Homo sapiens: one gene and its partners. The protein of the gene in region 1 purifies or fractionates together with the protein of each later gene. This does not show direct contact. Each region holds a gene or a part of one and is shown in the gene's direction. Other genes may lie near its edges.

Region 1 (3,500 bases):
GCCCAACCCCATGTTCACCCAGAGCCAGGTGGTGGGGGTAGAGCGAGGGCCTGAGAGGGATGCTGGGTCTGGCTCATCCCCACCCCACCGTTTCAGCCAGCACCGTCTTCCCAGAGGACCTGACATCCTAGCCCAGACTCTGGTGTAGGTGGGGACACAGGAAGTTGATTGGAAAAGTGGACTAACTTAGAGATTTCCAAGGCAAAAATCCAGAGAGCCCTGGGACACCTGTGGTTAATTCATTCAGCATTTGTCAAGTACCTATTAGGCACCACACATGTTGATCAAAACAGATATGATCCCACCCATATGGATTAACTGACTCCAAGGGGAGGCCACCGCGGGCCGCATAACCCAAAGGTAAAATTACAGTGATACGGAACCACAGCCAGGAGGGACTCCGAGAGCCCATAGCAGGGCGGTTTGGCTTGGTCCCAGAGGTCAGAGAAGGCTTGCAGAGGAGACCATGCTACTGCTTTGGGAGCTGCGCTATTGAAGGAGGAGATAAAGGTGGGAGGTGGGGGGAATGAAGGGAAATGATACTGGTTGGAGGGAAAGGAGGCTTTACAGAGCCTTCAGGCCACAGATGAGAATTTGGGCCCCTTCTCCTAAGGACCAGGGGAAGCTATTAAAGGGCTTTGAGCTGGGAAGAGTGACCAGACCAGATTTGTAATTCAGAGGTCAGCTTTGCTGTCATTACCTGGTGGAGAGTGGCTGGTAGAGGAACCAGAGGGAAATGGGGAACCCACTTAGGGTTGAGCGGCCAGTCAACAGGTGTCCTGAGAACTCACTGGGAGCCAGCTTCGTTCTCAGCACTTAGAGGGCTGCAAAGAGGCAGGCTGGATCCCTGGACCACACGTGCCCTCTGTCACAAGAGAGGCTTGTGGGGCATTGTGGCCAGGACCCAAGGTCAATCAGCTGGCATCCTTACCTCCTCACCACAGCACAGCCAGGAACACAAAGGCCCAAGAATGACATCTGAACAGCCAATGCCTGGCTCAGATTTGGCCTTGCTCAGCTAAAGCCTCAGCACTTTACCACTTAACCTTTGCTTTACATACACTTCTAACTCAGCCTACTACGGAGCTGAAATAGTCCGTTAGAAAGGGCAGGACTGTGGTTGGTGGAAATGTGACCCAGCAAGGCAGGGGAAAAGGGCCTGAAATCAACATCAGAACACAAAAGGCATGTTTGTTCAGGGCCATTTAGAAAAGTGCAGCTCAGGGTGGGGTGGGAGCAGGAGCTGGTATGGCGAGAACAGTGAGGAGCTGGCAGGGCAAAAGCAAGGACTGGGGCAGCAGAGTAGGAGGGATCAGGTGAATGCAGGAACAGGGCCTCAGGTAGAAAGGTCAGGGCGGTCTCCAGAGACCAAACTCACAGCTCAGAGCCACCAAACGTTAATATGGATGACGTCTCAAGGATCACAGCATCCAGGATAGACAAGCAGGTCTGATGGGTGGGCAGGGGCTGCTTCTACAGGAGACTGCTGAAACTTCCAGACCCAGAGGTGAGGGAGGCCGGCCTGCGGAGGGCCGTAGGATTCAGTTTGGAGGCCTCCTGGTGCTAAGGCTGCCATGAGCAGGGTGGATCAGGCGGGACAGGAGGGAACCGCCCTCTTTTCCCCTTCTTCCCCTCCCTTCTCCCCTCCATCTTTTCCTCCCTCCTCCTTTCCCTCCCTTCCCCACATTGACCTTCCATGAGCCTTCAGGGACCAAGTGTCTGTTTAGCCTTCTCTCCATAAAGGGACCCCCCAGGGTTTTAGCTGGGAGGCCAGAACATCTGGTGCCTGGAAAAGAGGAAAGGGCAGAGTCTTGGATGGGGGGTGACTTGCACAGGGTACTCTTTGACCAATCAGTCCCCCTTGATCCTTGGTAGTGACCTCCTACTCACACAAATTCCATTCTGCTAACCCTCACCAGCCCTCTGAGGTGGGTGGGCAGGGATTGGTGGCTTCATCCTGTATCTGGGAAGCTGAAGCATAAGGCACCTTTATGTCTAAGCCTTAGTGTTCCTCATCTGTAAAATGGGAAAAATGGAACAAACCCTCTCCCAAGGTTGTTGCAATGAGGATTAAGAGAGATGCATGGCATAAATGTTGGGGCCAAGATGGGGCAGCTTCAACGTGAAAGAGTCAGGATTTATTTCAGGCCTCCTGCTTCCAAGCCTGATATGGTGATCATTCTTCCATCCTGCCTTACTTATGAGAGGCACCTAAAAAGTCAGACAAAGCATCCCCCTTAACCCACCCCAGTAGAGCCAGGGATCAGGCATAGGCTCTCTGACCCCCAGCCCAGTATTCTTTCTAGCATTGCCCAATTAAAGCCCAGTGCCCTCAGCTGTACAGGAAGAATGCTGCTGTCCTTGCCCCACCCAGACCTATTGTCCAAGGAAGTGGGAATATCAGGTGATGTTGAGGGTGTAGAAGTGAACTGAGAAGCCTCTAACCCAGGTCTAAGCCAGACCCTGCAGGCCCTGCTCCAGCCTGCAGTTCGAGAGGAGCAGGTGGAGGCAGAGGCTGTCCTGTGACAGACATCTAGCAGGCTCATGCTGAGGACTCAGTGTATGCAGGATGAACTCGCCAGCTCTGCCCTCCAGGAGCAAGGGGAGGAAGGGGTCTTGATCACCTGCTGGGTACAGTATAGGGTCATCAATCAGGGTGCTGGATACAGGCCCCATCCACCTTTGGAGCAGCCAGGGGGTGGGAAGTGGGTGTTTCTGAGGGAGGGCTGGCCCTGTCTGCTGCACACACTACTGTACATCCAGGCAGATGGTGACATCAGCCACATGCAAGGGCTGGGAGGGCTTCCTGGAAGAATGAGCTTAACTGAGCACTCTTCCAGCAAGCATGGTTTGAGAGTCTGCCACGTGCTCCCTCTGAGCACTGGGTTTGGCACTGGGGAGACACAGTGCCCACGCAGACTACGCATGGAGCTGGAGGCCTTGCCTGCAGGCACAGGAACCTGCTGCTAGTGGAGAGCCTTGAGGGTTCCAAGTGGGGCGGGAGGGATGATGGCATTTCTGGCAGTTTTGCCTGATAGTGGCAGGTGGAGTGGGATGGTGCAGGCATAGGGAGACTGAGACAGACAGGCCAGTGGGGACATCTGGGAGGGCAGAGGCAGGAGCTGGACTAGGGCTTGGCAGTGAGGAAGCGGAGCCATGTGTGAGGAGACACAGATGTGTGCAGGGGGGCTGGGCACCATGGCTCACGCCTGCAATCCCAGCACTTTGAGAAGCCGAGGCGAGCAGATCACCTGAGGTCAGGAGTTCAAGACTAGCCTGGCCAACATGGTGAAACCCTGTCTCTACTAAAAATACAAAAATTAACCAGGTATGGTGATGCACACCTGCAATCCCAGCTACTCAAGAGGCTGAGGCAGGAGAATCACTTGAACCCAGGTGGCAGAGGCTGCGGTGAGCCAAGATCATGTCATTGCTCTCCAGCCTGGGTGACAGAGCGAAAGGCCGTCTCAAAAAAAAAAAAAAATATATATATATATATA
Region 2 (3,500 bases), on another chromosome or scaffold:
AATTCTGTAGAATATAGGATACATTTAGAAGAGTTGCAGTGAGGATTGATGGCTTACTCTGTGCTTTTGGCTCTTGAAAATGATTACCTTTGCCAAATTTATAGTTCTAAGGCAGTCTCATTCCCTGAACTCCTCATAGATCAAAATCATGTCTTGGATACCTCCATTTGGAAATGTGTTAGACATTTCAAATCCACTAGTCCAAAAGTTAACACTTGATTTTCTGCCTGACATCTGCACTTCCTTCATTCTTTCCCATCTTGTTAATTGGGGCCTCACTTCTTTCAGTTACTCAGGCCAAAAACCTTGGAGTTATCCATGATCCTTACTTTCTCTCACACCTCACTTCTAATTTGTCAGCAGATATGATTGATTTTTCCTTTGCAATATATCCCAAATCCAGTTCCCACGTCTACTAGTGCCTCCTGGTCCAAGCTGTCATTAACTTTTACCTAAATTACTATGGTAACCTTGTAAGTGGTCTTTTTGTTTCTGTACTTTTCTCATTGTAGTTATTCTTTGTTCTGAGGTAAGAGTGGTTCTTTTAGTTTGTGAGATAGAGCATGTTATTTCCCTACACAGAGTGCCCAATGGTTTTCTACCCTGATCCTGAATAGCGTTCAGAGTCATTACTGTGATCTGCACAGCCCTATAAAATGTAGCCCCGTTTTACTCTGAGTCGCTAAGCGTTCTTCTCCCTATTTTTCCTTCTATCCATGTTAGCCTTCTCCCTATTTCTAAAATATTCCTGGCACATCTCTGTCTTACGATCTTTGCAGTTGCTTATTTTCTGCATGTAGTACTATTTACCCTCTGCTGAGTACTGTTTACTCCCTTACTTCAAGTCTCTGCTCAAATATTTCATCAGGAAGACCTTCTCGGACCAGCTTATCTGCCTCCATCCCCATCACTTCCTCCCTTTGTGTGCTTTCTTCAGAGCACTTACTACCACCTGACATATTTATTTGGTTATCTGCCTCCATCTTCTAGAAAATAAGCCTCCGGAGGACAGAACATTACTGGGTTCAGGAAGCAGTCCATAAATATTTACTGGGTAAATTATGTAAATAATATCCAAAAATATGTTAAAAATACCTAATTCTGCATGACCTTTACAACTAGGCAGCATTATTCAGTGATAACTGAAGTTGCTTTTTCTCTTTCTTGATGATAGTGCGTAATGGGAAAACTGAGTGTTACCTTTCCATCCAGACTCAAGAGAACTTTCCGGCCAATTTAAACGAACTTGTGAATTGTATTGTAATCAGTTCTCTGGTAACTACACAAAGGAAGTTGAAAGCCATGTCTCTGTTGGGTAGTCGGAACCAACTGGCTAGAGCTGTTCTGAATCCAAACCCTATGGACTTCTGTACAAAAGATTTACTGACTACAACATCTGAGAGAATTGTGAGTGATGATGTATGATACTAGATAATTTCATGTTAAGATGTTAAAGCATCATATTTTTTAGCTGCTATGTATTCCTATATGTTTACAACAAAAATGTGTTCACGGTGAACAGTTTAGTGTTAGTTTTCTTTAGTATTGCAAAGTATGTAATTTAGGTTAAGTCAGCTCACTTCAGGAAAAGGTACAGTACAATAAGCGTCGAAGGTTGCTGGAAGAGCAACATTAAAATGTTAGGTCAGCAGCCTACTTAATGTGCATTAGGTGAGAAGTCTCAGGTTTAGTGGTGTTAAATTTACATTTGAATGATTGATGGAGAATTGGCCGGTATTGTTGGAAATGCAAAGATGAAGTTGTCAACTGAACATGTGAAGCTGTGTATAAACTCTAGGAAGTTAACAGAGAAATGCAAAAGGAAACTAACTATTTAGAAACTCTAGAGCTGTATGCTATGGCTTTCATGTGCATTATCTCAGTCTGTTCTCACCTCTTAAGGAATCCTAGATTTAATGAGTAACAGAGGCCAAGGCTTGGGTTAGGAGCGTAGTGGCCTAGCTTGTAAGTGCAAGTGAAGCTTACACCCAGATCTTCCCCTGGCATACATGCTTTTTCCACTGTATCACATGTGCTAGGAAATAAATAGTCTTGGGATGTTTTCACTAAGGAGAAAATTGACTAAAGAAGGAAAAAAACAGAGTAGTAAATAGAAGAAAAGTTGTGGATTAGTAAATGCAATTTATTGTGATTATCTTTGTAAGAATAAAAAATAAAAGTACAGTTGTATTTGTAAGTACTTGAAGCGTTACAGACACTAATTAGTAATTAGTAAGTAATTAGCTTTCTTTCCAGTAGTGAACGTGCTTTTTAGATTAAAGGTCACTTTGGTGTCCTTGTCTTGTCTGACCATAACCAAAGCTTTTGTCTCATGCATTGAAAGAAATTTGGACAGGTCTTTTTCATGTTCTTCCTTTCAAATTCCACTACAGAAACAGCAACTCATTCTCAAAAATGTGTTTTTTATATAGATTGCGTACTTAAGAGATTTCAATGAAGATCAAAAGAAAGCAATAGAAACTGCATATGCTATGGTGAAACACTCACCATCAGTTGCCAAAATCTGCTTGATTCATGGACCACCTGGAACAGGAAAATCAAAAACTATTGTTGGCCTCCTCTATCGTCTACTGACAGAGGTAGGTATGGGTGAGGGCACTGATGCTGTTAACTAGCTGTATCATTTTACTTTACTTGAGTTAACTGACATGTAAATAAGTATTAACATGCCATTTCCTCTTTGATTTGTATATATTTTTTATATTGTGTGTAACTGTGTCAGAGAAAAGGGTGGCAGAGGGAGGGAAGGTTATGGGAAATAAAAAGAGGAAAAAACCACTATCTTATGTGAAACAAATCGTAAGGACTAGAATGATGGTCTTCAGGCTTCACGGTAGGTCACGTAGAATGCTGTGAATGCTGGGCTGCATTTTGGTTGGATTGTGGTTTTTTGTTTTTTTTTTTTGAGACAGTGTCTCGCTGTCATCCAGGTTAGGGTACAGTGGCACGATCTTGACTCACAGCAACCTCTGCCTCCCAGGTCAAGTGATTCTCCTGCCTCAGCCTCCCGAGTACCTCCCTAGTGGCTGGGATTACAGGCGTACACCACCACCCACAGCTAATTTTTGTATTTTTAGTAGAGATGGGGTTTCGCCATGTTGGCCAGGCTGGTCTCGAGCTCCTGACCTCAAGTGATCCGCCCGCCTCGGCCTCCCGAAGTGCTGGGATTACAGGCGTGAGCCACTGTGCCTGGCTTGGATTGAGTATTCATTAAAGTAAGTGGATGATAAAGTAAGGCTCAGAGCAGTTATGACAAATTTTTTTGCTGGAGTAATTTTAAATATCAGTGTTAGATGTAGATGCTTTTATTTATTTTTAACTTTATTACGAGAACTTTCAAAAATACATGGAAGTAAAGACAAACTTTAAAGCTATGTAATAGAGCTCACCCATATTTTTTGTGTGTTTGTTTGGTATGTATATGTGGCAAATTGTAGAACCAGAGGAAGGGGCATTCAGACGAAAACTCCAATGCCAAA
Region 3 (3,500 bases), on another chromosome or scaffold:
GAAAACATTGCCTTAATTGACAGGCATCGTGACCCAGATAGTTCTTAATCATTGAAACCTGTTTCTCTCCTCCTTATCCACTGGCTGCCTGGGATTTGTTACCTGGGAAGCAGACTACCATAGCAGTTAAGAGCATGAGCCTAGGAGTCAGACAGACCTTACTTTAAAGCCAGGCTCTTGGCCAGGCACGGTGGCTCATGCTTGTAATGCCAGCACTTTGGAAGGCCGAGGCAGGTGGATCATGAGGTCAGGAGTTCAAGACCAGCCTGGCCAGCATGGTGAAATCCTATCTCTACCAAAAATACAAAAATTAGCCAGGCGTGGTGGCAGGCACCTGTAATCCCAGCTACTCAGGAGGCTGAGGCAGAGAATAGCTTGAACCTGGGAGGTGGAGGCTGCAGTGAGCCGAGATCCCGCCACTGCACTCCAGACTGGGCGACAGTGTGAGACCCCATCTCAAAAAAAAAAAAAAAAAAAAGCCACGCTCTTCCATTTAGTACCTCTATGGACCTCAGTTTCCTTGTCTATAAAATGGGCCTAATATTGGACTCTGCCTCATCAGTTGCTATAAAGACTACATGCATAAATACATATAAAGCATTTAGAACAGGGCCTGGAACGTAGCACTTTTCCAAAAGTATTAGCTCTTCTTGCTATGAGTCAAAAAATAAGATTATGTATGAAAAATGTTTACAACATGGTAGACACCCACCCAATTCTAAGTATGGTTTCATCTCATCATCATTGTTCACCAGGAATTTAGCTGAAGGAATGAAAGGGTATAAAATGTAATGAGTATGTTTGGTCAACTAGGCATTGAGTAGAAAAGAAGCTGAAGCTGAGGGCTGTCATCTGGGAACTGCATTTCCCCCTCCACCTACATTGCTGCTCCTATACTGACTAAGCAGTCCCAGAGATTAAATTGTGTTTCAGGGGGTGGCCGCGGTGGCTCACACCTGTAATCCCAGCACTTTGGGAGGCCAAGGCGGGTGGAACACCTGAGGTCAGGAGTTCGAGACCAGCCTGGCCAATATGGGAAACCCTGTCTCTACTAAAAATACAAAAATTAGCCGGGCATGGTGGTGCACTCCTGTAATCCCAGGTACTCGGGAGGCTGAGGCAGGAGAATCAGTTGAACCCAGGAGGCAGAGGTTGCAGTGAGCCAAGATTGCACCACTGCACTCCAGCCTGGGCAACAGAGCAAGACTCTGTCTCAATAAATAAATAAATACATAAAATTGTGTTTCAGCTGGTGCAGTTGATTTGGGCCGATCCATTCTCTCCTCTTCCAACTCCGATGGCCAGTAACTTGTATTTTTTGATAACTTCTTTATTAAGATATAATTTGCATACCATACAGTCCTCCCATTTAAAGTGTATAGTTCAATGCTTTTTATCCACAGAGCTGTGTAACTATCACCACGACCAATTTTACAACACTTTTATCACCCCAGAAAGAAACCCCACACCCTTTAGCAGTCACCACATTCCCCAGGCTCCCCCAAATAACATGTATCTTTGAACCTTTCTCATGCCATTGTGATACCATCTACGGGTCTTTAGGCCATAGAACACACACCTTGTACATTTGGCTTCATTGGAACCTCACTCCCACAGAGCAGCTCAACTTTTCTTTACCAAAACATAGTCCCACAGGTCCTCCTAGGGTAAACTGCTCATCTCAGCAGTCAGGATAACTTCATCTCTGTCTTTCCTATTTTAAAAAAAAAAAAAAAAAAAAGCATATCAGAATACAAATGAGTAAGATTCATGATATTTTAGAACTGACTTTTTAAAAGGTAAATTATTCTCAATATTTGGTACAGTTCCTTGGACCCAATTACCCACCTTACAAGCGATTGGGTAATCCAGCGTATCATGATGCTGTGGTTAAGGACAGTTGATCTTAAGTGTGGCTGCTCCTATGCCCTTGGTGTGAGATGAGTTCTCTGTAAAGGAAGATCACCTCAGTCAGGACACTTACCCCGCCTTCCAGATCAACCATGGAGCCCCAGCAATCACGGGGACTCAGGTGTCCCAGCCAGAGCTCCCTTATTGCTGCCAACATGCTGACTCAATAAAAATGCATTAAGCACTTTCTTTTAATTGACAAACAATAATTATATATATTTATAGGGATAACACCAATTTTGTATGCAGTATTGTATTAATGGAGTGAGGCATACAGTACAAACAGGATATAGTCTGACCCTCAAAAATGTCTATCTAACTACATAATATTAGTGAAAAAGGGATTGGTATATAAAAAGGGAAAAAGTAATTGTTCGGCTTTGAGGATTTCAAAGATCAATTCTATAACAGAGCCTGGAACCACTAGTGACAATGATTACAAGAGACTGACCCCAAATCCAAGACCTCCTCTCCAACTTCCCTCTCCATCACTCACCTCTGGACACTTTAATAGAGCCATCACCTCTCTGAGGACAAAGAAAATTTCACTCAGTTCTACACGTCTTCCAGCATCTCATGCAGGCCCGCCATCATAGGTACCCTGGAAAAGTTACTAAATGAATAATGAGGACATGTATGTTTAAAGATGACATTCAGCAAGCTACTACTAAATGAATGACTTTTGATGATAATTACATTTTTTACAGTTAGTGGGGATGGGGTGAGAGAGACAGAGTGACACTAAAATAAATAAAACTCTTAATCCTTGTTCTCCTCAGAGTGGAGATGACTCCTCAGAAGAGGAAGAAGGGGAAGTAGATAGTGAAGTTGAATTTCCACGAAGACAGAGGTAAAACCAACAAATGCACACGATTGCTTTTAGTGGAATGGGGAAAAAAAATCCTAAGTTTGCCACACCTGCTCTTCAACCACAGGTGATTCCCTGGCAGCCACCTTATAGGGAACTTTGAACTCACTGTGTTCATGTTTTCCTGTTGCTACATTTTGGCAGTTGTTCGTGCACAGCAGATCCTAGTTCATTAGCATTCATTTTACAGCAACTTCATGATGAGGAGCATGAATACAGATTCAAGGTTACAACTGAGAATACAGTGGGCAGTTTGTGACAGATGGCCATGCTGTTTTATGGGTAATTGTGTTGGTTTCTAGTGTGCCTCCCTGTGTTGGTCTGCTCAGGCTTCTGTAACAAACTGGATGCTTAAACAACAGAAATTGATTTCTCACAATTCTGGAGCTGGGGAAGTTCAAGATCAAGGTTCTAGCTGACTCAGTTCCTGATGAGGGCTCTCCTACTGGCTTGCAGACAGCCACCTTCTTGCTGTTTCCTCACATGGCAGAGAGAGCTCTTCCTTCTTTTAAAAGGTCACAGTCTTATTGGATTAGGGGTCCACTCTTATGAACTCATTTAATATTAATTACCTCCTAAAGACCCTATCTAGAGGGTCTATCTAGATACAATTATATTGGAGTTTAGAGCTTCAACCGATGGATTTGGGAGGAAGGCAATTCAGTCCATAGCATTCCCCATGCCTTAGATTTTATATCTCAAGTTAAATATGATTAGATAA
Region 4 (3,500 bases), on another chromosome or scaffold:
AAGCGATTCTTCTGCCTCAGGCTCCCGAGTAGCTGGGATTACAGGTGCCTGCCACCACACCCAGCTAATTTTTGTATTTTTAGTAGAGACAGGGTCTTGCTATGTTGGTTGATCTTGAACTCCTGACCTCGGGTGATCTACCCGCCTCAGCCTCCCAGAGTGCTGGGATTACAGGCGTGAGCCACCGTGCCCAGCCTTGGTAGCTTATTTTTAAATTGCATTTGCTACAATTCTCCTGCCTCAGCCTCCCGAGTAGCTGGGACTACAGGTGCATGTCGCCAGGCCTGGCTAATTTTTTGTATTTTAGTAGAGATGGGGTTTCACTGTGTTGCCCAGGCTTGTCTTGAACTCCTGAGCTCAGGCAGTCTGCCCGCCTCAGCCTCCCAAAGTGCTAGGATTGCAGGTGTGAGCCACCGCACCTGGCCACTACTTTTTGGAACTCTATTTTGTACTTGCTGACTTTCACAAAAAGTTTGAGGCAGCTTACAATAGGATGTAATAGGATGAAAGAAGAAACAACAATATATTAATACGTGGCCAGAATTAGTGTGCTTCAGAGGTTGTAGAAGCCTTATTAACCTTTCTCACGTTTTTCAGGGGAAAGCCTTGCCAGGCAGTTACTACTACTCAATTGAGAAAGATGTGTGCTAAGTCTCAAAAGCAAGTACTTGTTCTCAGTCACATCAGTAGTGAGTAGCACGCTTAAACTGAGAGTTTCTGGTTCTGGGGTGTTTCTGTTTTACTCCAATCAAGAAAGATTCTTCGTTCCTCCATACTCAACAAAATGGAGGGAGACTGGGTACCAAGTTCAGACACAACAATATATTTACTTTTGTTTGTTGTTTTTTAAAATATTTTTTCAGTATACATGTAGCATATCATCTTCTTACAGCAAGACTGTGCAATAGATCATATACTTGCTTTGTAGATGGGAAGGCTGGGACTGCGTGAGGTCACGTAATGCACCCAAAGCCATGTAGCCATTAACTGGTAGAGCCCAAGCTCAGACACTAGAATTAATTCTGTCTGAAACCAAATGCAAGCTTGGTCCATTGTTCTAGACTGTTGCACTTATTCTGTGCTGGCCAGCTGGCATAGGCAGGACAACACTGTAGTGTGGGGACATTATCTTCCCAGTGGCCTAGATGGGAAGGTTAAGTTCAGAAGCTAGTTGGGTCTGATTCCAGAGTTCACCTTGCCAGTCCATTTATTGGTGGATTTCCTTCCAGTGTTTTTTCCCCATCCATAAGCTTGTGGTTTTTCTTTTTTCTTTTTTTTTTCTTTTGAGACGGAGTCTTGCTCTGTCACCCAGGCTTTAGTGCAGTGGCGCGATCTATGCTCACTGCAAGCTCCGCCTCCCGGGTTCACATCATTCTCCTGCCTTAGCGTCCCCAGCAGCTGGGACAACAGGCGCATGCTGCCATGCCCGGCTATTTTTTTTTGTATTTTTAGTAGAGACAGGGTTTCACTGTGTTAGCAAGGATGGTCTCGATCTTCTGACCTCGTGATCCGCCCGCCTCAGCCTCCCAAAGTGTTGGGATTACAGGCGTGAGCCACCACACCCATCTTTTTATTTATTTATTTTTTGAGACAGTCTCACTCTGTCGCCTAGGCTGGAGTGCAGTGGCACGATCTCTGCTCACTGCAAGCTCCACCTCCCAGGTTCACGCCATTCTCCTGCCTCAGCCTCCCGAGTAGCTGGGACTAAAGCCGCCTGCTACCACACCCGGCTAATTTTTTTGTATTTTTAGTAGCGATGGGGTTTCACCATGTTAGCCAGGATGGTCTCGATCTCCTGACCTCGTGATCTGCCCGCCTCAGCCTCCCAAAGTGCTGAGATTACAGGCATGAGCCACTGCACCCGGCCCTGTGGTTTTTCTTAAATAGTTTAAGCTTAACTTTTATTTCTGTAGTTGAAAATTACATTTAAAAAAGCTGTAGTGAGGCCGGGCACGATGGCTCATGCCTGTAACCCCAGCACTTTGGGAGGCCTAGGCGGGTGGATCATGAGGTCAGGAGTTTGAGACCACCCTGGCCAACATGGTGAAATCCCGTCTCTACTAAAAATACAAAAATTAGCCGGGCGTGGTGACAGATGCCTGTAATCCCAGCTACTCAGGAGGCTGAGGCAGAGAATTGCTTGAACCCGTGAGGCGGAGGTTGCAGTGAGCCAAGATGGCACCACTGCACTCCAACCTGTGCAACAGAGTCAGACTCTGTCTAAAAAAAAAGAAAAGAAAAGAAAAGAAAAGCTGTAGTGATCTACATCTGAAACACTTAATGTGTGTTTTTCCATTTAGGGATCAGAATAAATACAAAGATGCAGCTAACCTACTGAATGATGCCTTGGCTATTCGTGAGAAAACTTTGGGCAAAGATCATCCTGCGGTTTGTATATCCAGTTCTTTCATTCTTTTAATATTTTATTTTCCCCATATATTTCTTTTATCCAACTCATTTTACCATTAAACTCAACAGGGAAAGTTTAAGTGCTGCCTTTTCCCTAGATGGTGCAGGTAGGAGGTCTTCACTTACTCAGTGCTAGTGACAGGCCAGAGCACACTTAATTTGTTTATGACCCCACCTCAAATGGATCACCAACTGTATTGTTTGATTGTAAATCAAATTGCATGTCCTTCTAGAAATTTTTTTCTGAAAATTATATTGTCTTCATTAAAATCTGGTCAGATTTGCATATGAATCTGTTTTGGTTGGCTTTGTGGCTTCCAGGGAAATTTTTAAAAAGTCAGGAATACGTTGTTGATTTGTTTAATTTTAGTATTCTGCAGTGTTACTTTGTATAATCTATACTCTAGTGAATTGCGCTTTTCATTTTAACTGAAGTCATATTGTTCTATCCGACTAAGAATGCTTTACTGTATAGATTGAATATAAATGAATATGTGGTGTATAAATGTACTCTTATTTGGTTATCTTTTACCATTCTTAGTGGTTCTCTCTGTGTTGACAGGTGGCGGCGACTTTGAATAACCTTGCAGTCCTTTATGGTAAAAGAGGGAAGTACAAAGAAGCAGAGCCGTTGTGTAAAAGAGCTCTGGAAATCCGAGAAAAGGTACAAAAGAAGGGGGCAGTCGTTTTCTTTGAGATTTTTGTTTTGTGTGTGTGTGGTTTTTTTTTTTTTTTTGAGATGGAGTCTCGTTCTGTCACCGGGCTGGAGTGCGGTGGCGTGATCTCGGCTCACTGCAACCCCCACCTCCATGGTTCAGGTGATTCTTCTGCCTCGGCCTTCCAAGTAGCTGGGACTACAGGGACACACCACCACGTCCACCTAATTTTTGTATTTGTAGTAGAGATGGGGTTTCACCATGTTGGCCAGGATGTTCTCAATCTCTTGACCTCCTGATCCGCCCGCCTTGGCCTCCCAAAGTGCTGGGATTACAGGCTGAGCCACTGTGCCCGGCGCTGTTTTTTGTGTTTTTAAAAATTTTTCGGTTTTAGGTTTTGAGAAATAACCACTGTGATGTGTTTTTAACTGACTA
Region 5 (3,500 bases), on another chromosome or scaffold:
TTAGCTGGTAGAATGTACCTTGGCTAAAGAAGATTCCCTCTGCCACACTCGTGCTGTAATGTACTGCGAGGCGACCCCAGAAATTATCCCAGTGTGTGCCATCTGTATTAAAATGGTTATTCAGTTATGAACAGGGTAACATAATACTGATCAGCTAATTATACACCCTCCGAAAACCCTCCAGCTCCCTCGGCCTGGCTCAGCCAGGTATTGAAAGCATAGCGATTTGACATTCAGATACCTTCCAAAGGAGCTGGAGAAAGACGCTGGGTGGTTTGGGAGAGGAATAAGCCCTTTGCTTTAAAAGCCAGGAGAGGAGGCTGGGGCAGCTTTGGGCTGAGGCAAGAGTGGCACTTCGGGAGGGGAAGGGGACAAAGCATTGTTTTATGAGCCATGTAGAGACTCAGTCTCTTGGCTGATTGCTGGTCCTGGGCATGAGTTGGAACTGAGATCTCAAGAGAAGAACAGCCAAGGGCCAAGAGTGGCCCTGCTGTGTGCAGTGTTGCTGGGACTGGGTAGTGGTCTTCTGCAGAACATTTAAGAGAAATGCTTGTTGTCAGTAACAGAATTTTCAAGCCTTTGGAGAAACCCAAGTCATGTAGGATTTAGGTAATTTGTTTCTCTTGAATGGGGTAGAGGAGTGGCGCAACAAGTCAGGTGTGGTGGCCCCGTCCAACACCCCCTGCCCCTCCCCTCAACAACATGCACTCCTCATTGGCTGAGATGATTTTGGAAGCTGGCTTAGGCATAAGTTTGGAAATACTTCTATCCTGAAAAGCCATGGAGAACAAGGGCCAGGTGACCCTAGGATCAAGCTCCAGAGGTCTTGAGGTGCACCCACCAGAATTAGGACAAAGTAGACAAGTGAGCCACAAGTGAGATGAGGGTGGGGAAAGAGTAGCCTCAGCTTGACAGCTGTGACAGCTGCAGAACCTGCCCAGCACAGAGCCCTATCACCTGAGGGGCACACAGGCTTCCTTTGGGTGTGGAGAAATAGCCATCTGTGGGCAGATGTTGCTGGAGATGGAGAGGGAGTAGGAGGAGAGGAACAGGTAAGCCACCAACAACACGGGCAGCCTACCCTGGGTCCGTAGTTAGGCTTCATGGCTGGCTTTGTCTACAAGGAGCAGGAAAACTATTCCCAATTTTGCTTTTGTCCAGAATCCTCTCATGGTTCATATTTTGGAAAGAATTCTGGGGGCTTCCCTGTGTGCTGCTGAGTTGGGGCTGGAGAAATCCACCTGGGGAACCACGCTCTCATCTTCATCCCTGTAGGTGCTTTTTGCTCTGAAGAGGGAAGGTTTATCTGAGATGTATTGTTTCACCCAAAAGCCTGATAAAAACAGGATGTTTCTGCTAGTGCTGGTTATATCAGAAACTTTGCCTTTTATCAGTTCTGGGAATTCTCACTCACTGTAGGAAGAGCCCGGAGATTTTCCTGTGTGCACAAAGTGTGGTGCACCGGGGAACGGGTGGTTCTTGAGTTTAGAGCTTTGTTGGTAGTGACCTGCCCACTTGTGTTGGGTACTTTATAACAGTTATGAGTAAGGTTGTGCATGAGCTGGTGGTTGGCAAGAAAAGAAGTCCACACATGCTCACCCACCTGAGCTAGTGGTTTTTCATCTTCTCCTTCCCAAAACAGATGCTGTCGCCACACTTGAAATATGCTGTTATGGTTATAAACTAAATTGCTTTTTTCACTCTTTAAAAATGGTTTTGGCATTCTCTGATTCTGTTGTGATAAAGGCCTGGCCATCCAGCCTGTATTCTCCACTAGCAAATCCTCAGAAATGCCTCTCTGAACCAGAGGACTGGGTCAGGAAGGCCTCCCCACTGCCACAAACCACGTTCAAAAATCCCAAGGCTTGACTGGGCTCCTTAGCATGTGGAATTTATCTGAATCTTTCTAAACATTGGGTTACCAATGGCTGAGCATGGAGTTGCCAGCTTTTTGGTTTGTACACCGCTGCTGTAAAGGGCAGGTGTTTATAAACAGGGGACTTTAGATTGAAACCTGGTGTGGGACATGGCCTGGAGAGGGGAGAGGTGGAGGGAGATCCATGCTACTGAAAAAGGAAAAAGTCGTCTAGTTACATAGCTGAGCAATTGTCTAAGCAGGAGGGATTTTCCTGATTATATGCCAAAATCTTCTGGTTTGGCTGTTACTCTGGGCAGAGAATACACCTCCTTTGAAAGAACAGGCACAGACCCCAAATAGAGTCTGGGGTTACTGACAATCCCCCGAGGGTGCTCTTTTGGGAAGAGCTGACAATAAGGGTGTCACCTTCTAACTTTTTTAGCTTGCCTAACACTCTTTGGAGTCAGGGCACTCTCTGCCCCTAGATCTTTGGAGTGGACCCTGGCAGAATCAACTTCTCACGGATCTCCCACTATCCACACTCTCTCTTAGCCTGTTAGGCTCTAGGTGAGTACATTCATTCTCCTAGCAGTGGCAACCCAGGGCTGTGTTAAGGAATTCCATCCTGTATCATTTGGGTGTCCCTCTTCTGTCATTCTCAGGTCTTTGAGTCATTCTCAGGTCATTGTTCCCCTTGGGTCAGGCAGTGGGGTGACAATGGTCTACTAGTTGTTCGTTCAAAGACCTTTCCAAATAAGCTGGGAGCTATTAATCCTAGCCCCGTGAATGTTGAAGATATGTTCCGGGCTAGGGTCTGTTTCTCCCTCTCTGAAACTCAGGTTCCAGAACATTGCCTATTCTACTCTTGGACCTGGCTTGGCATGAAGCTTGGCCAGAGGGGTGGTACTGCCTACCACATCTCCATATCTTTGTAGCTGTTTGGTGGTCAGGGCTGTTGGTCTCATGGCAAAGAGACAGGGCAAGTTGGAGAGTTCAGAAAAAGACTTCTATCCACAGAGGAATGGCAGAAACAAGGACAGGGAACTCACCTTCTGTGGCCTGAGCCTAGCAGATTGGGCCCACAAATAGCAGACCAACATGCCAATTTCTGTCAGAGAAGCCTCGCTCACCTGTCCTTTCCCAGAGACAGTCCCCTACTGTGAGGTTACCCATCATTGGAATAACATTTGAAACAGGCATGATGGTTGAAATTCTCATTCCTTAAAATGAGCTGGAGTTGTCCTCCTGAAAAGCCTCTTTTTGTTTTTGTAGTTGTTTTAGCCTGGGCTTCCTGGCCCACAGTCCTGTTGGTCTGACTGTCTCCCTGTTGGCTGGTTCTGTGGGTGTTCAGGCTACAAAAGGGGTTTCTGGTGAGAGCAATTGCTGCTTGCCCTGCCTTCCTACCTCAGCTGGCAACTCTCGAGAAGAGGCAGACAGGAGGCACTGGGCCTGACAACAGCTCCAGGTGCATTTCAGAAGGTGACGCAAAGAAGAAAAGAGAGGGAAAACCCAAAATGAATAAATAAATAGTGTCCCAACTGTTCTGAGAACTCAATAAAACAATCACATCAAATATGAAGAGGCATAAATCTTGTGTCTGCACAGGTAACCTACTCAATTGCTTTTATTATCGCTCAGGCTG
Region 6 (3,500 bases), on another chromosome or scaffold:
CTTTTTAAAATTGTGGTGAAATACATACAACATGAAATTTTCATTTTAACTATTATTTTGGTGTATAGTTCAGTGGTGTTAAGTACATTCTACTGTTGTGCAACCGTCACCACCATCCATTTCCAGAACTTTTTCATCTTTCTGAACTCAAGCTTTGCATCCATTAAACAATGATTTCTGTCTCCCCCTTTCCCCATCTCCTGGCAACTGTCACCATTCTATTTTCTATGAATTTGACTGTTATAGGTACCTCATATAAGTGGAATCATATAGTATTTGTTCAATTTGTAAGTAATTTACTTCATTTAACATAAAGTTTTCAAGGTTCATCTACATTGTAGCATGTGTCAGAACTTGTTTATTTTTTGAGGCTGAATAATATTCCATTGTTTTTATATGCCATGTTCTGTTTATTCATTCACCCATTGTTGGATATGTGGGTTGTTTTCACCCTTTTACTATTGTGAATAATGTTGCTGTGAACACTGGTGTACAAATATCTGAGTCCCTGCTTTAAATTCTTCTGCGTGTATACCCATGAGTGGAATTGCTGGATCATATGATAATTCTGTGTGTAACCTTTTGAGGAATCACCAGACTTTTCCACAGTGATTGCACCATTTTACATTCCTACCAACAGTACACAAAGGTGTCGGTTTCTCCACATCCTCGCCAATATGTGTTTTCTGTTTTTTTAATAGTAGCCATACTAATGGGTATGTAGTGGTATCTCTCATTGTGGTTTTTGATTTGCATTTCCTAATCTTAGTGATATTGAGCATCTATTCATGTGCATATTGTTTGTTTGTATATCTTCTTTGAAGAAATGTCTATTCAAATCCTTTGCTTGCTTTTTTTTTTTTTTTTTTTTAAATTTTTTCCAGACAGGTTCTTGCTCTGTTCCCCAGGCTGGAGTACAGAGGCATGATGATCATGGCTCACTGCAGCCTCAACTTCCCAGGCTCAAGTGATTCTCCTACCACAGCCTCCTAAGTAGCTGGGACTACAGGCACACACCACCGTGCCTGGCTAATTTTTAAATTTTTTGTAGAGATGAGGTCTCACAGTGTTACTCAGGCTAGTCTCGAACTCCTGGGCTCAGGCAATTTTCCTGACAGCCTCCCAAAGTGCTGTCATTTTTTGTTGTTGTTAGGAGTTTTAGGTGTTTTTTATATATTCTAGGTATTATTCCCTTTCAAATACATGATTTACAAATATTTCCTCCTTTTTGTGGGTAGTCTTTTCATTCTCTTGATAGCGTCCTTTGTTGCACAGTAGTTTTTAACTTTGATGAAGTACAGTTTAACTACTTTTTCTTTTATTGCCTGTGCTTTTGGTATCATGTCAAAGAAACCATTGCCAAATCCAGTGTCCTGAAGCTTTTCCCTATGTTTTCTTCTAAGAGTTTTATAGTTTGAGGTCTTTGATCTAGTTCAAGTTAATTTTTTTATATGGTTTAAAATAAGGATCCAGCTTCATTGTTTTGCATGTGGATATCTGGTTTTCCTAGTGCTATTTATTGAAAAGACTGTCCTTTCCCTATTGACTGATTTTGGCATCCTTGTCGAGGGTCATTTGACTAAGTATGTGAGGATTTATTTCTGGGCTCTCTATTCCATTCCATTAGTCTGTGTATCTGTCTTTATGCCAGTTCCACACTTTTTGATTTGCAGTAAGTTCTGAAATTTGACTCCCCCAGCTAATATTATTTTGGCTGGGCTCAGTGGCTCATGCCTGTAATCCTAGCTCTTTGGGAGGCCGATGGGGGTGGATCACTTGAGGCCAGGAGTTCGCGATCAGCCTGGCCAACATGGCAAAACCCCCCATCTCTACCAGAAAACTACAAAAATTAGCTGGCATGGTAGTACACACACCTGTAGTCCCAGCTACTCACAGCTACTCAAGAGGCTAAGGCAGGAGAATCGCTTGAACTCGGGAGGCGAAAGTTGCAGGAAGCCCAGATCACACCACTGCACTCCAGCCTGGGCAACAGAGCAAGGCTCTGTCTCAAAAAGAGAGATTCTTTTGATGTTAGATTCCATATGAATTTTTGGATAGATCTTTCTATTTCTGCAAAAATTGTCATTGGGATCTTAAGGGGACAACCACTTGTTTTTAACTGATTTTTCTGCATGGACCTCCTTGTGCCATAGCAGCACAGCTATTTGAGAGTTTAAGGCTCTATAAAATGTTTAATTAAGGCTTCTATAGGGTAGTATGCATTATAAAATCTGAAATGATCCAGCCTGGATTTAGATTATGCAAGTTTCTTTGCTTGTATCTTCTCTTTTGGTAAGAAAGAACATACCTAGAAAGTAGACAGCCTCCTTTAGGGAGGAAATAGTATTTGACATGGATATGTCTTGGGAATTGCGTTTCTTTTGCTAGGTAATCTAAGAATTTGTGTAGGCTTTTAGTATGGAGTAGTTTTAGGGTGACTGCTTTAAAACTTCAAAGCTATAGAAATGACCCTCTAAATTGAGAGAATAAAGTCACTTTTAAAGACTGTTAAGCCGTAATTCATGGTAGTATGTAAAAGTAAAATTTTATTTCATTTTAGCATGCCAATGAAGATGTGGAAAGAATGTTACTAGGAAACAAGTGTGATATGGACGACAAAAGAGTTGTACCTAAAGGAAAAGGAGAACAGGTAAAAATCTGAATTAAACTGATACTCTGCTCTGTCTTTGTAAAGGTAATGCTACTTTTGATTATTTTTATAGTAATAGTGATCGAACACACTAAGCTAATTACATAGTTTTTAAAATGCTTGTTGGAAATAATATTTTATCATTTGAGTGAATTTTTTTTCAGTGCATATTTAACATGTATGGGAGAATCAAATGTGCCCATAGTATTTTTAGCCTTATTTAAACTACAAAGAGAGAAAAATATAAGTCATTAATCCTCGGTTTTTAAACTTAGGACTTTAAGGAAATGTATCAATTAGTATGGTTCTAAAATGTGACAATCAGGAGCCTATGGTGAGCAGAAATTAGACCCTGAGGAGTCAGGTTGAGCTTCTCATAAGTTTGCCCCCAGTGTGAAGTATCTGACTTAGAATATCTGAAATAAACTTTTGGGGTAAGGAGATTACTTTTCTTTTGTTTGTTTTATGAAAGAGCTTGACTTGCTGAAATATTCTGTGTTATATATTCTAGTTGGGACCACTGCCTTCAGAATAAGATTAATATTTAAGCTGTTAAAGTCAGCAGTTGGCAACCCATGCTTGATAATTTTATGATGATATTTTGTTTCTGTTTTAGATTGCAAGGGAGCATGGTATTAGGTTTTTTGAGACTAGTGCAAAAGCAAATATAAACATCGAAAAGGCGTTCCTCACGTTAGCTGAAGATATCCTTCGAAAGGTAAGTTCCTGTTTTTATATCCTGCCAGGTACCTGAGTATCTCTGTTGAATATTTTGTCTATTCTGAAGTACTGGATTTACATACAGAATTTGAGTTTGGGTGGTATTGTTTCTGTAGGGCAGCAGTCCCCA

The links.
Region 2: the proteins of MAPK8IP1 (region 1) and SETX purify together in Homo sapiens (affinity purification with mass spectrometry; 2 studies listed by BioGRID and IntAct, with this or other methods). This does not show direct contact.
Region 3: the proteins of MAPK8IP1 (region 1) and MAP3K13 purify together in Homo sapiens (affinity purification with western blotting, with the first as the bait; one study listed by BioGRID). This does not show direct contact.
Region 4: the proteins of MAPK8IP1 (region 1) and KLC1 purify together in Homo sapiens (affinity purification with western blotting; one study listed by BioGRID). This does not show direct contact.
Region 5: the proteins of MAPK8IP1 (region 1) and PAX2 purify together in Homo sapiens (affinity purification with western blotting, with the first as the bait; one study listed by BioGRID). This does not show direct contact.
Region 6: the proteins of MAPK8IP1 (region 1) and RAB10 purify together in Homo sapiens (affinity purification with western blotting; one study listed by BioGRID). This does not show direct contact.

What each region holds. Positions count from the first base shown.
Region 1 is NC_000011.10:45,892,151-45,895,650, forward strand, and holds part of MAPK8IP1 (C-Jun-amino-terminal kinase-interacting protein 1), read left to right. Parts: intron 1-3,500. UniProt on the Homo sapiens protein: The JNK-interacting protein (JIP) group of scaffold proteins selectively mediates JNK signaling by aggregating specific components of the MAPK cascade to form a functional JNK signaling module. Required for JNK activation in response to excitotoxic stress.
Region 2 is NC_000009.12:132,295,987-132,299,486, reverse strand, and holds part of SETX (probable helicase senataxin), read left to right. Parts: intron 1-1,174; coding exon 1,175-1,407; intron 1,408-2,432; coding exon 2,433-2,600; intron 2,601-3,458; coding exon 3,459-3,500. UniProt on the Homo sapiens protein: Probable RNA/DNA helicase involved in diverse aspects of RNA metabolism and genomic integrity.
Region 3 is NC_000003.12:185,474,636-185,478,135, forward strand, and holds part of MAP3K13 (mitogen-activated protein kinase kinase kinase 13), read left to right. Parts: exon of another isoform or gene 1-1,714; intron 1,715-1,848; exon of another isoform or gene 1,849-1,949; intron 1,950-2,407; exon of another isoform or gene 2,408-2,690; coding exon 2,691-2,761; exon of another isoform or gene 2,762-3,500. UniProt on the Homo sapiens protein: Activates the JUN N-terminal pathway through activation of the MAP kinase kinase MAP2K7. Acts synergistically with PRDX3 to regulate the activation of NF-kappa-B in the cytosol.
Region 4 is NC_000014.9:103,667,211-103,670,710, forward strand, and holds part of KLC1 (kinesin light chain 1), read left to right. Parts: intron 1-2,300; coding exon 2,301-2,388; intron 2,389-2,971; coding exon 2,972-3,073; intron 3,074-3,500. UniProt on the Homo sapiens protein: Kinesin is a microtubule-associated force-producing protein that may play a role in organelle transport. The light chain may function in coupling of cargo to the heavy chain or in the modulation of its ATPase activity.
Region 5 is NC_000010.11:100,752,082-100,755,581, forward strand, and holds part of PAX2 (paired box protein Pax-2), read left to right. Parts: intron 1-3,500. UniProt on the Homo sapiens protein: Transcription factor that may have a role in kidney cell differentiation. Has a critical role in the development of the urogenital tract, the eyes, and the CNS.
Region 6 is NC_000002.12:26,124,584-26,128,083, forward strand, and holds part of RAB10 (ras-related protein Rab-10), read left to right. Parts: intron 1-2,560; coding exon 2,561-2,650; intron 2,651-3,266; coding exon 3,267-3,368; intron 3,369-3,500. UniProt on the Homo sapiens protein: The small GTPases Rab are key regulators of intracellular membrane trafficking, from the formation of transport vesicles to their fusion with membranes.